Regions from separate parts of the Homo sapiens genome. Here region 1 is linked to region 2. Evidence: fine-mapped expression QTL. A gene starts in region 2. The other region holds a variant in brackets. All regions are shown on one strand. Distances are between the middles of the regions. Region 1 holds the start of U2AF2 (U2 small nuclear RNA auxiliary factor 2). Region 2 holds the start of EPN1 (epsin 1).

Evidence for each region.
Region 1: its variant is fine-mapped to the expression of EPN1 in whole blood (INTERVAL, PIP above 0.99).

What each region holds. Positions count from the first base shown.
Region 1 is chr19:55,651,817-55,657,174 of GRCh38, forward strand. CCDC106 (coiled-coil domain containing 106) reads left to right here. Exons shown (of 5, transcript NM_001370470.1): 5 at 614-1,345. The coding sequence ends at 930. U2AF2 (U2 small nuclear RNA auxiliary factor 2) reads left to right here and starts at 3,219. Exons shown (of 12, transcript NM_007279.3): 1 at 3,219-3,337. The coding sequence starts at 3,289. RefSeq lists enhancers at 2,345-3,014, 3,965-4,044 and silencers at 3,065-3,114, 3,205-3,254, 3,465-3,604. The variant G/A (reference allele first, on the strand shown) is at 2,757.
Region 2 is chr19:55,672,616-55,677,973 of GRCh38, forward strand. It overlaps EPN1 (epsin 1), which reads left to right and starts at 2,611. Exons shown (of 11, transcript NM_001130072.2): 1 at 2,611-2,820. U2AF2 (U2 small nuclear RNA auxiliary factor 2) reads left to right here. Exons shown (of 12, transcript NM_007279.3): 12 at 1,319-2,101. The coding sequence ends at 1,453. RefSeq lists silencers at 2,173-2,392, 2,563-2,892, 5,088-5,358 and an enhancer at 5,304-5,358.

The DNA of each region.
Region 1 (5,358 bases), 21 kb before region 2:
ACGCCTGGCTAATTTTTTGTATTTTTAGTAGAGGCCAGGGTTTCACCGTGTTTGCCAGGATGGTCTGGATCTCCTGCCCTCGTGATCCACCTGCCTCGGCCTCCCAAAGTGCTGGGATTACAGGCGTGAGCCACCGCGCATGGCCTGTCCTGGGTTTACTTTTAAGTTTTGGTCCACCGTCGAGGGCAGGGCCACCTTGGGCACCTCCTTAACTTTCATCAGTAAGGAGGAGGTGCGCAGTAGGACCTACCTCACGGGGAGGGTGAGACTTGAATAAGTGAATTCACCTGAGGCAGGGAGACGAGGGTGATGGCTCGGGGTGTCGGGGGGTGCTGGGACCGCGTGGGTTGAACCCGGCCTCTTGGCTCATTTTGTCTCCTCACTCTCCTTCCTGGGCCTGCCTCTTCCCATTTCCCACTGGTCCAAGATCTGGCTGCGATTCTTCCCCTCCTCTCTGCCCCTTCCTTGCCTGTTGTTCTCCGTCTCCACCTGCACCGGCCCGTGCCTCTGCTCGCCGAGATCCTTTCTTCCCATGGCCGTTTCCCTTCCCGTGTCCGCCCCCTCAGTCTTGTGCCCTGCCCCTCACTTTCGTGTCCCCGCCTCCACCCCTCAGTGAAGGACGCCGACGGGGTCCTCTGCCGGTACAAGAAGATCCTGGGCACCTTCCAGAAGCTCAAGAGCATGTCGCGGGCCTTCGAGCACCACCGCGTGGACAGGAACACCGTGGCGCTGACCACGCCCATCGCCGAGCTGCTCATTGTGGCCCCCGAGAAGCTGGCCGAGGTGGGCGAGTTCGACCCCTCCAAGGAGCGCCTGCTCGAGTACTCCCGCCGCTGCTTTCTGGCCCTGGACGACGAGACGCTCAAGAAGGTGCAGGCGCTCAAGAAGAGCAAGCTGCTGCTGCCCATCACCTACCGCTTCAAGCGGTGATCGCACCACGCCTCCGCGCCTCCACCCGGGCCTTCCTCCCCCGTGGACCCCGGTGGATGACCTGCCCCTCTCCCCGCCGCGCCCCTGCCCCTCCTCCTCGCTCCCTGGGTTGGGGGCTCCCTTAGCCGGGCCCCCAAGCGCGACGGCCCCGGACCGGCCGCGGCCCCTTCCCGAACGCCGGCACCCCCTTCCGCTTGGGCTGCCCAGCCCTGTCCTCGCCGGGCCCCTTCCTCCTGGAAAACCAGGCAGGCGGGTGCCCCCCCCTCGAGTGGGGGACTGTACAGACCCCGTCTCCGCCCTGGCCCCGCGGAGGAGCTGCCCACCTGATTCCCGGACAGACCTCCCCAACTCCGCGTGAGACAGAGAATTATTCAGATAATTTAAATTAAAAAACGACGTGAAAATTTGGAATAAACTTGGCCTCAGCCTCTTCCTAGGAGGGGGACGTGCCTGGGAGGGGGCGGCCGTCGCCCCGAAGACGGTGACGGGGTTGCGGGGGCTTCCAAGGGGGTGGGTGGTCAGGCGGGAGGACGGGTAGGATACGGTGTAATTAGCCCCCCGGAGGCAGAGATGGAGAGTGAAGCAGCTGCGCCCCAGAAAACTCGGAGGCAGAGCTCGGGAAAAGAAGCGCGGACACAGCCGGGCGCGGTGGCTCACGCCTGTAATCCCAGCACTTTGGGAGGCCGAGGCAGGCGGATCACGAGTTCAGGAGATCGAGACCATCCTGGCTAACACGGTGAAACCCCGTCTCTACTAAAAATACAAAAAATTAGCCAGGTGTGGTGGCGGGCGCCTGTAGTCCCAGCTACTTGGAAGGCTGAGGCAGGAGAATCGCTTGAACCCGGCAGGCGAAGGTTCCAGTGAGCCGAGATCGCGCCACTGCACTCCAGCCTGGGCGACAGAGACTCCGTCTCAAAAAAAAAAAAAAAAAAGTAAAAAGAAGCGTGGACACTACCCGCTGGGCTACCCAGACCGGAGCGCGGCGCGAGAGGCGTGAGTCGATGACCTCTAGCGAGGGAGGCCACCTAGCGGCCAGGCCAAGTCTGGAGGATACTTCCGTTGGGCCGCCAGGGGGCAGTAACGCCAGATCATCTGTCTCCCGGAAGTAATGCCAGATGATCCGTCTGCCGCGCCTGCGCGGCGGGAAGAGCCGGAGCGCGTTGATGTGGTTGCCGAGACAACCAAGAGGGTGGCCGGATTTAACGGCTGGGGATTAAGCACTTTCACCGTTGTAAGGGAAATCTCGCGCACGCGCAATGGGGACTGAAACCTGGTCCCCGCAACCCCCTTCACGGGAGCAGTGGGAGAGCGCGCCACAGAACGACTTTTACGCAGGCGCAGAAGCCTGTTTCCCCTCACCCGCGGCTTCCACCCTGCGCAGGCGCAAAAAGCCGCGCTGGCAACCTCCGCAGCGGTCGCGCGCACCCTTCATCCCTCTTGCTGCTTTTGTCTGGCACAACCTTCTCAGGCCCTCCGCGAGGCCGGCCCTTTTTTTCTTTCACTTTCCCCACCCGGAGAGCCAGGTGCCGAGAACTAGGACCTCGTCCCCTTCTCTATCCCTTCCCCTGATCCATCTCGTCTCTGTTCTCCTTCCCTTTTCCGTTCCCGAAGCCGGAAGGAGCCGAGGTACCCACGGAAAAAGTCGAAGCTGTCCCCGGAGAGTGAGGCCTTCACGAAGCGGTGGCGGAAGGAGCCGAAGTTCTCTGATCGGAGGCGTGAGCAAGTGGCATCTCCGGAAAGAGCCGAAACACGGACTCGAGCTTAATCCCAGGAGGGGCCCGAGGGCGAGATCCGGAAATCTCCGGAAAGAGCCGAAGGCCGGGACG[G/A]TTAGGATTGTCGGAAGTGGCCGATTGCTTGGACAGGGCCGGCGGAGAAGATCGGAGCAAGTCCGTGGAAGAAGCCAAAGACTGGGACGGATTGAATTGTTGGAAGAACCCGAACTCGCAGAGGGGACTGGGCGCAGTGGCACACGAGGACACACGGAAACCTCCGAACGTTGAGGAGATAATCTCGGAAAAGTTACGGAAACCTGGGAAGTCGGCGAAACCCTACGTTCGGGTGTTTTCGGAAGCAGCCGAAGCGGCCGCCTGCTTCGCCTTCGTCCAGTATCCGGAGATAGCCGAGGCGCTTCGGAGCCAGGCTCGGGGGGAGGGGCAAGCTCGCGGGCGGGCGGGCGGGTGAGGGGGCGGAGCCCGGGCGGGGCGGGGAGGGCTGCCGGAGGCTTGATTAGGTAGGAGGTGGCGAAGCGCCGGCGGCGGCCGGAAGTAGCCGAAGCCAGCGGCGGAAGTAGCCGAAGCGGCTGGAGCGGGCGGCAAGGCGAGGCGAAAGCTGCACAGGGCCCTACGCGGCCGCCTCAGCATGTCGGACTTCGACGAGTTCGAGCGGCAGCTCAACGAGAATAAACAAGGTGAGGGCACCGGGGTCGCGGGGCGGAGGTGTGGGCGGCTCCTCGCGTCGCTCTTTGCCCCCCCGCCATTTTCTCCCTCGCTTCCCCCCACTTCACGGCCGCGCGGCGCCCCCCAACCCTGGTTCCGTGGCGCGCGCCTCGTTCACGTGACGTCCCCAGCGTTCCGCCGCGCGCTAGGCGAGGGGAAGGGGGCGGCGGGGCGCGGGCCCGTGACGCATGCGCACGGCGGCTGTCCCTGCGCCCCACGTGGTCCTGGCGGAGGTGGCGCGGGGGACGCGGCACGAGCGCGCCAGATGCCTCGACGTGAACTTTTGTTTTTTAAAATCTTTTTGGTTTCTCTGAAAAGGAGATTATGTTAGTCCCCGTAATCTCTTTTCTCCCGCTGCCTTGGCACTTCCGCTTCCGGTCGGGCCCACGGCAGCGTCTCCACGCCCCCTTTGTTTCCAAAATGGCGGTTGTGAGAACTTGGTGGGGGGGCCCCTTTCCTTCCTTCACGTGGATGAGGGCAGAGCCGTTTCGGCGGATGCTTGGAGGCCACGGGCCCCTCGCGTACCCCTTTTCCTTTTTGCTGATTTGCTCTGATCTCTCCCGCCAGGTGGTTTCTGCCCCGTCTGTTGGTAGTGGGGCGCCTCATATTAACGTGTTTGGCACATGTTGCCTAAAAGCATCTGCATTCTTTGAGTGTCCGCACGCACACATCCTGCATATGCGGGGCTTTTGGCGGTCCCGAGAATCGCGATATGGAGTGTTTGAGACAAACCTCAAATCATTTACAATCCCAATCTCAGGGCACCTGATAATACTCAGTCTCAGATCTCAATATAGAGATAAGAAAACAGGTTCTGAGGGAGGAAGAGGGATCTGGCCCACTGCGCTAAACTCTTCACTTACGGGGAAGGTGGGAGGCAGGTTCCCTTCAGGGTATCGAAAATTGTGATGGGTTAGAACAAAAAGCCTGGGGCCCTGATCTTAGGGATTCCAATAATATTAGAAGTGGGAGAGTTGTTAAGACGCTTTAAAAATCCTCCGTGTTTCAGTTTGTGAAGAAATACAGGACCAGGGAAGATTGGAGACTTGTTTCTTTTCAGGCTTCAGCTGCCCATGTTCCTAGCTCGTTCGGAGGACGAAATGAGGGCTGAGGAATTTTCCTTTGAACCCGGGCTAGAGTTGGGTAGGGGCTGTATTAGGAAACAGTGTCCTGGGGAAGCAATAACGTTTACTGAGGGTCTGACTCTGTCTTAGTTGATGGACTGCTCAAGAGCATAGGCTTTGGAGTTGAGCACATCAGGAAGTTTAGATACCTGCTTTGTCGTTTAGTAACTGCTTTTAATACGTTTATATATTTTTTTCCATTTGTAGACTGATTATTATTTTCTTGTTACCGGATTTTGAGAAGATTAAAAAGGATGATAGTAACGATAGATGTAGTTAAACTCTGAGCGCTTACCGTGTGCCAGGCTCTTCGCTAAACTCTTAGCATGTTTTACTAAGTGGATCCTTTTAACAGCCTTGTGAGGCCAAAATGATTTCCACCTCTACTGGGGAGGAAACTGAGGGCTCAGAAAAGTTAAAAACTTTCTCAGGGCTCAGCTAGTCAGAGGCAGAGCTGAGATTAAATGGGGTAACATGTAAAGTGTGTGGCATGTGGCTTTGCGTACACTGGGTGTGCAGTAAGCGATATTTGCAATTGTAAAATTCCATGCTTAGAGAGGAGGGTCTTCCGCTCACAGAGATTGTGTCAGAGTTGGGAAAGGGCAGGAAAAGGTGCTTTCCAAATGTCATTCTGCCACACAACACCTGGATGGAGTAGATACGACCCTCGTTTAAAGAGAAAACCAAGTCTTAAAGGCTAAGTTGCTTTTGCATGGTTTTTGTTGTTCATAAGCAGAAAAGCAGGTACTGATTCTGAGCTCTGGCTGCAAGGCCAAGTTCCACTCTGCTGGACCAAGTGGAGCTGATTGGGCGGTTCTTTGAGGCTCTCAGATGGTGCTTCACCGGTTCTCCCGGGGTTTCCCTTTTGG
Region 2 (5,358 bases):
AACCAGATAACCTTAAAAAATTGTTTTGTTTTTTTAACAAAACCACAATAGCATGATTAGATTAGCGAAATTCCTTAGTGCCTATTCCATGTTCAAATTTTTCTATCTCAAGAATTTTTTTTTTTTTTTTTGAGACAGAGTCTCGCTGTTGCCCAGGCTGGAGTGCAGTGTGCCCGCCACCACACCTGGTTAATTTTTTTTGTATTTTTAATAGAGACAGGGTTTCACCGTGTTAGCCAGGATGGTCTCGATCTCCTGACTTTGTGAGCCGCCCGTCTTGGCCTCCCAAAGTACTGGGATTACAGGCGTGAGCCACCGCGCCCGGCCAATAATTTTTTTTTTTTTGAGACGGAGCCTCACTCTGTCACCCAGGCTGGAGTGCAGTGGCGCAATCTCGGCTCACTGCATCCTTCACCTCCCGAGTTAAAGAAGAGTAGCTGGGACAGGCACCCGCCATCATGTCTGGCTAATTTTTGTATTTTTGGTAGAGATGGGGTTTCGCTATGTTGGCCATGCTGGTCTTGAACTCCTGACCTCAGGTGATCCATCTGCCTCAGCCTCCCAAAGTACTGGGATTACAGGCGTGAGCCACTGTGCCCAGCCGAGGATATTTTTTATAGTTTGTTTCAGTAAGGATCCATATCAGGTCCCTGCCTTGAATTTGGTTACAAAGTTTGTGTAATTTATCCTTTGTACCTCACTCCCTCTTTTTTTTTTTTGCAAGCTCTTTTATTTGTAGAAGAAATAAGTTCATCTGCTATATAGAATTTTCAGTGTTCGTGTAGGCTCATTGTATCCTTCCCTCCCTCCATTTTCCTGTAAATTGGTTTAAGCAAGGTTAGAAGCTCGAATAGATCAAGGTTCAAGTTTTTAAATTTTATTCAACCTGGGTTTGAATCCTAATTTCTGAGCTTCCCTTAGTTCACTTATTGTTGGGAGAACATGGCTGTTGGGGTGGTTCTGGGAGCGCCCACCATGGTGGCTCGTGTGGAGTAGACACTCAGCACGAGGGACCCCTCCCCCGCGGTGAGCTCGTCTAGGCCTCCCGCCTGCGCTCTATGGCTCTGCTGAGTTTCTGGCATGTCTCTATTCTTTCTCCCTCTCCATGCCTATGGTGTGTTTATGCTCTTGTTTTTTGATCCTGGAGAATATTTGGGTGAACTCCACCAAACCTGCTTACTAAGGGTCCCTTTCTGACACCTGTGGCGAAGCCCCCTCCTCCCTGTCCCTTCCTGCCTTCAGTGCTGGGGTTGGGTGGACGCTGACTGGCTGTTGGGCGTGAGCCTTGTTCACAAACCTGCCTCTCCTTTCCCCACAGATCTTTGTGGAGTTCACCTCTGTGTTTGACTGCCAGAAAGCCATGCAGGGCCTGACGGGCCGCAAGTTCGCCAACAGAGTGGTTGTCACAAAATACTGTGACCCCGACTCTTATCACCGCCGGGACTTCTGGTAGAGGCGGCTGGGGGAGGGTGGGGGCAGGGCTGGCTGGGGGCTTCTCCCCACTCCCGCCCCCCCCTTATCCCCCTCTGAAGACGATGGGCAGAGGAGTGACAGCCGCAGACACACGACAGCCGGCAGCAACTGGAATGGCAGCAATTAAGGGTGGGGGGCGGGGGTTGGGGGGTTGGGGGGTTAGGGCAGGGAGGGGACTGGGGAAGTGCGCACACAGCCCACACAGACAACACGCACCCACACAGACACAGAGGGAAGGGGTTGGGATGGGGACAGGGTGCACAGCAGGGCGGGGTAGGACCCCAGCCCCTCCCAAAACAGCCTCTCCTTCTCCCATAGACCCCTTTCTTCTCCCCTTCCCCACGGTAGGAACATAGCGTGTTTATATTTTATGGCCAAACTATTTTGAATTTTGTTGTCCGGCCCTCAGTGCCCTGCCCTCTCCCTTACCAGGACCACAGCTCTGTTCCTTCGGCCTCTGGTCCTCTCTGGTCCCCTCCTGGGTTTCTTACGTAGTTGATTTTTCCTCTTTAGTCTCCCCCGACCTGCGCCCAGCCCCGTGGCCCCTGCCCCTCTCCTACTCTCTGTGGCAGTTTCATATTTGCTAAGACGAATTTGCTCATTAAACATTTTGTTGTATTTTACTTTATGGAGCGGCTGTGTGTCCAGTATGTCCGACCCTCTTCCTCGGTTCTGGGCTCGGGTGGGGGTTCCCTTGGCAAACTGCGGGCCCCTGGCTGGGACGCCCCTGCTGCCGGCGCCGGCAGCCTCGAGGCCTTCCCTGCTTGCGCGGTGCCCTTCTCGGGGTCGGCACAGGCACAGCCCCGGGGGACGTGAGGTTCCCGAGTGCTCTCCCACCCCGCCGACAGGAGGGATGGTGGCCGAGCGGGCCGGGGCGGGCGTGGCGTGGGTGTGCCAGGAGCTCCGCGGTTGCCGCCAAGCGAGCTGGAGCTGACTCTCGGCGTTCCGTGAGCACCGCGCGGATCCCCCGCTGCAGCGGGCGGAAGTGACGTAGAGGCGCCTAGCAACGGGGCCCAGCGCGCCGGAAGTGATGCCTTCCAGGTTGGCTTGGCTGCGGAAGCGACTCCTGCCAGGGCGGGGTGCGGCACGGGAGGGCGGGGAGCGCGGCAATTTCCGCTTCCGGTCCGTCGCCTCCTTCTGTTGCTTCCCGTCTCCTCGGCGGCTCCCCTCCCCCGCCCGGCTCTCCGCGCCCCTTCTGGGCGGCGGGGCGGCGGAGCCGTCGGCGTGCGGCCCTCCTTGCGTTCGTGCGTGCGCCCGTGGCCCGGCGCACGTCCCGCGACACCGAGGCCGAGCGGGGCAGGGGGCTGACCGCCATGACCCCCCAGAGCCCGGCGTGAGGGGGCCGAGGTGAGCGCGGGGCGGAGCGCGGGGGACGCTGGCCCGCCTGCTCCGGGTGTTCGGGCCTGGGCCGCGGCGCGCGCGGGCTCGCGTCTGGCCAGTTCTGGGTGTCTCTGGCGGCCTTTGTGTCTCTGCTCCTGTGTCGGCCTTGACTGCCCCCGTGTCGGTTGTCTGTGTCTGTCTCTCTCGTGTCTGTGTGTCTGTCAGCGTCTGTTTCCTGTGGGCCTCTGCCTGTGCCTGTTTCAGTGAACTTAGAAAAGGGTTTGGAGATAGGAGTGTGTTTGTGTGTCTGTCCCGGGTCTCTCTCTCCTCTGTCTGTCGTGTCTGTGTCTGTCAGGATTTGTTCGTGTCTCGTTGAGTTTCCGAGTCTTCTTTTCCCTAGGTGTCTCTAGCCCTTCCCTGCGGGCTTTTCTGCCTATGGTGCAAATCTTACCCCCGCCCCGTCTTCGCATCTGAGTTTTGCCCCCATACCTATCACCTCCAATCCTGAAGTTTCTTTCCAGGAGTCTGTTAACTTGATCTAGAATCTGCCCCTTTTCCCCAGTTTTCTGAGTCTCTGGTGTGATGGTGAAGAGCCCCAGCCTTGGATTCAGAAGCCCGGCTGCCTGCTAAGCTGTGTAATTGCCAGGTGATAGTCTCTGTGTCAAAACCTCAGTTTCCTAGTCGTAGGAAATCCATAGTTCGTAGGCATTCGTAGTTCCTACATCATAGGGTCCTTGTGCATGTAAGTTGAGGTGATGCTTGTAAAGTGCCTGACGGTATCTGACACATAGCAAGTGTGTAATTACTGGGAGCTCTGGTTTTTATTATTACAGTGCTTAGAGATTTTTACACAGTAAGTGTTAGATATCGGTCGGTTATTGGAGTACTCCTTGGAGAACTTTGCCATATCCTTTGTATTCTTTTTAATGTAAGAATTCTCTTTGAATCAATTTAATTTGAAATACAGTCTCATTCTAAGCAGTATCTGAGAAATCTCAGCTTTGATGTGCTAGTTGGGTAATTTTTTCTAATGCACGCCAAATAAGTACAGAGTATTAAGATAGTGCCTTTTCTGCCGCCACCCTTTTGGAAATGTTCTCTGTTTTTTCTCTGATAATAATAGCAGCCAGTGTTATTGAGCGCCTACTATCTGTGGGGCACAGAGCCAAGCACTGCATGTACCCATCTTATTTAATCAACAGGCCTACCAGGTAGGAATTCTTTCATTTCAGAGTTGAGCAAACTGTGTCTCAAGGAGGTGTGCGCTGCAGGTAGCTGATGTGGCCAGGATTTGAACCCACATTTTATATTCTTTGCCATTAGATTCCATTTTTCTTATCTCTTATTTCTCAGCGCCAGGTCTCTTTTTGTTTCTGGGCCTCTTTCTTCCTTGGCCTCCTGCCTCCCTGTCTTCCCATGTTCTTGTATCTGCTGCTGCCTGTGTTTTTCTCATTGTGTCTCTGCCTAGCTCCCTCTGCCCAGGTTTCTATGTGTCTCTTTCTGTCAGAACTGTCTTCTATTTCTTCTCAGTCCCCTTCTCTGCATTTGTTACATCATCTCTTCATCTTAATGTATTAGGCTGGGGCTGTTTTGGGACTCCAGAGAGTTACTTTTTAACTAGCTACATCTGTCTTCAGGTGCCTGGCTTTCTGGCCTGAGGTGGAAGCAGAGGCCAGCCTCTCTCCGTCATCCCTATCTCCCCTGGGCTTACATCATGGCGGGGCTTTGAAAATCTCCCTCTGTGGCTTCTTGGAGCCGCATAGATGGGTGATCAGAGCTGGCTCTGGAACCAGGCTGCTCCAGGAGTAAGGTGTGTGTCCCTGGGCAAGGGGCTGAACCTCTGTGTCTCAGTTTCCACCCTGTGAGGTGGCTATGAATCATGGGGTTGTTTCAAGGATTAACTGAGTTAATACATGTAAAGCACTTAAAACAGTGCCTGGCATGGGATAAGAGCAGTGCGAGTGTCTGCTGGTGTCATCATCATTTGCTTGACTCTCTTGTTTCTCGTCACCAGTCTCGGGATGGGTTAATTTAATTTAGGTTAATTTAAAAGTATGAGTTTTGGAGTTCAGGTGGGCCTCGGGTTGAGTCTGCCCTGCCATTCCTGGTGTGTGACCTTGGTTGAATTATTTAACTTCCAGGAGCCCAGTCTTTGCATGCAGTGTTGAAAAAGGTAATGTCCCTCTTGTGCTGAGCGAGCACCTGGCACACAGCAGGGACCCAGGCAGTGGGGCTGTTAGGTTCCTTATCTCTCCTGAGCCTTGGGCTTCCGCTATCCTTGGGACGTCTGGTCTTCTGGCTTCCCCGGTTCTTCCTGCCGCCCTGGGTTGGTTCCCTGCTCCTGCCTCTGTCTTTAATCCCTTCATCAGCCTTCTTTCCCATGTGTCCTTGTTTCTGCTGTGGATTCCTGCCCCCTCTGCCCTTGTTCCAGAGGTCTTTCCTGCCCTCCCTCTCCACTTCCTCCTTGCATGGTTTACTGAATGGTTTTTCTGGGCCAGCTTCTTTGCTGGGAAAAGCCACATGCAGACAGACATGTTCTCTGCCCCCATGGGGCCTGTGGGTTGA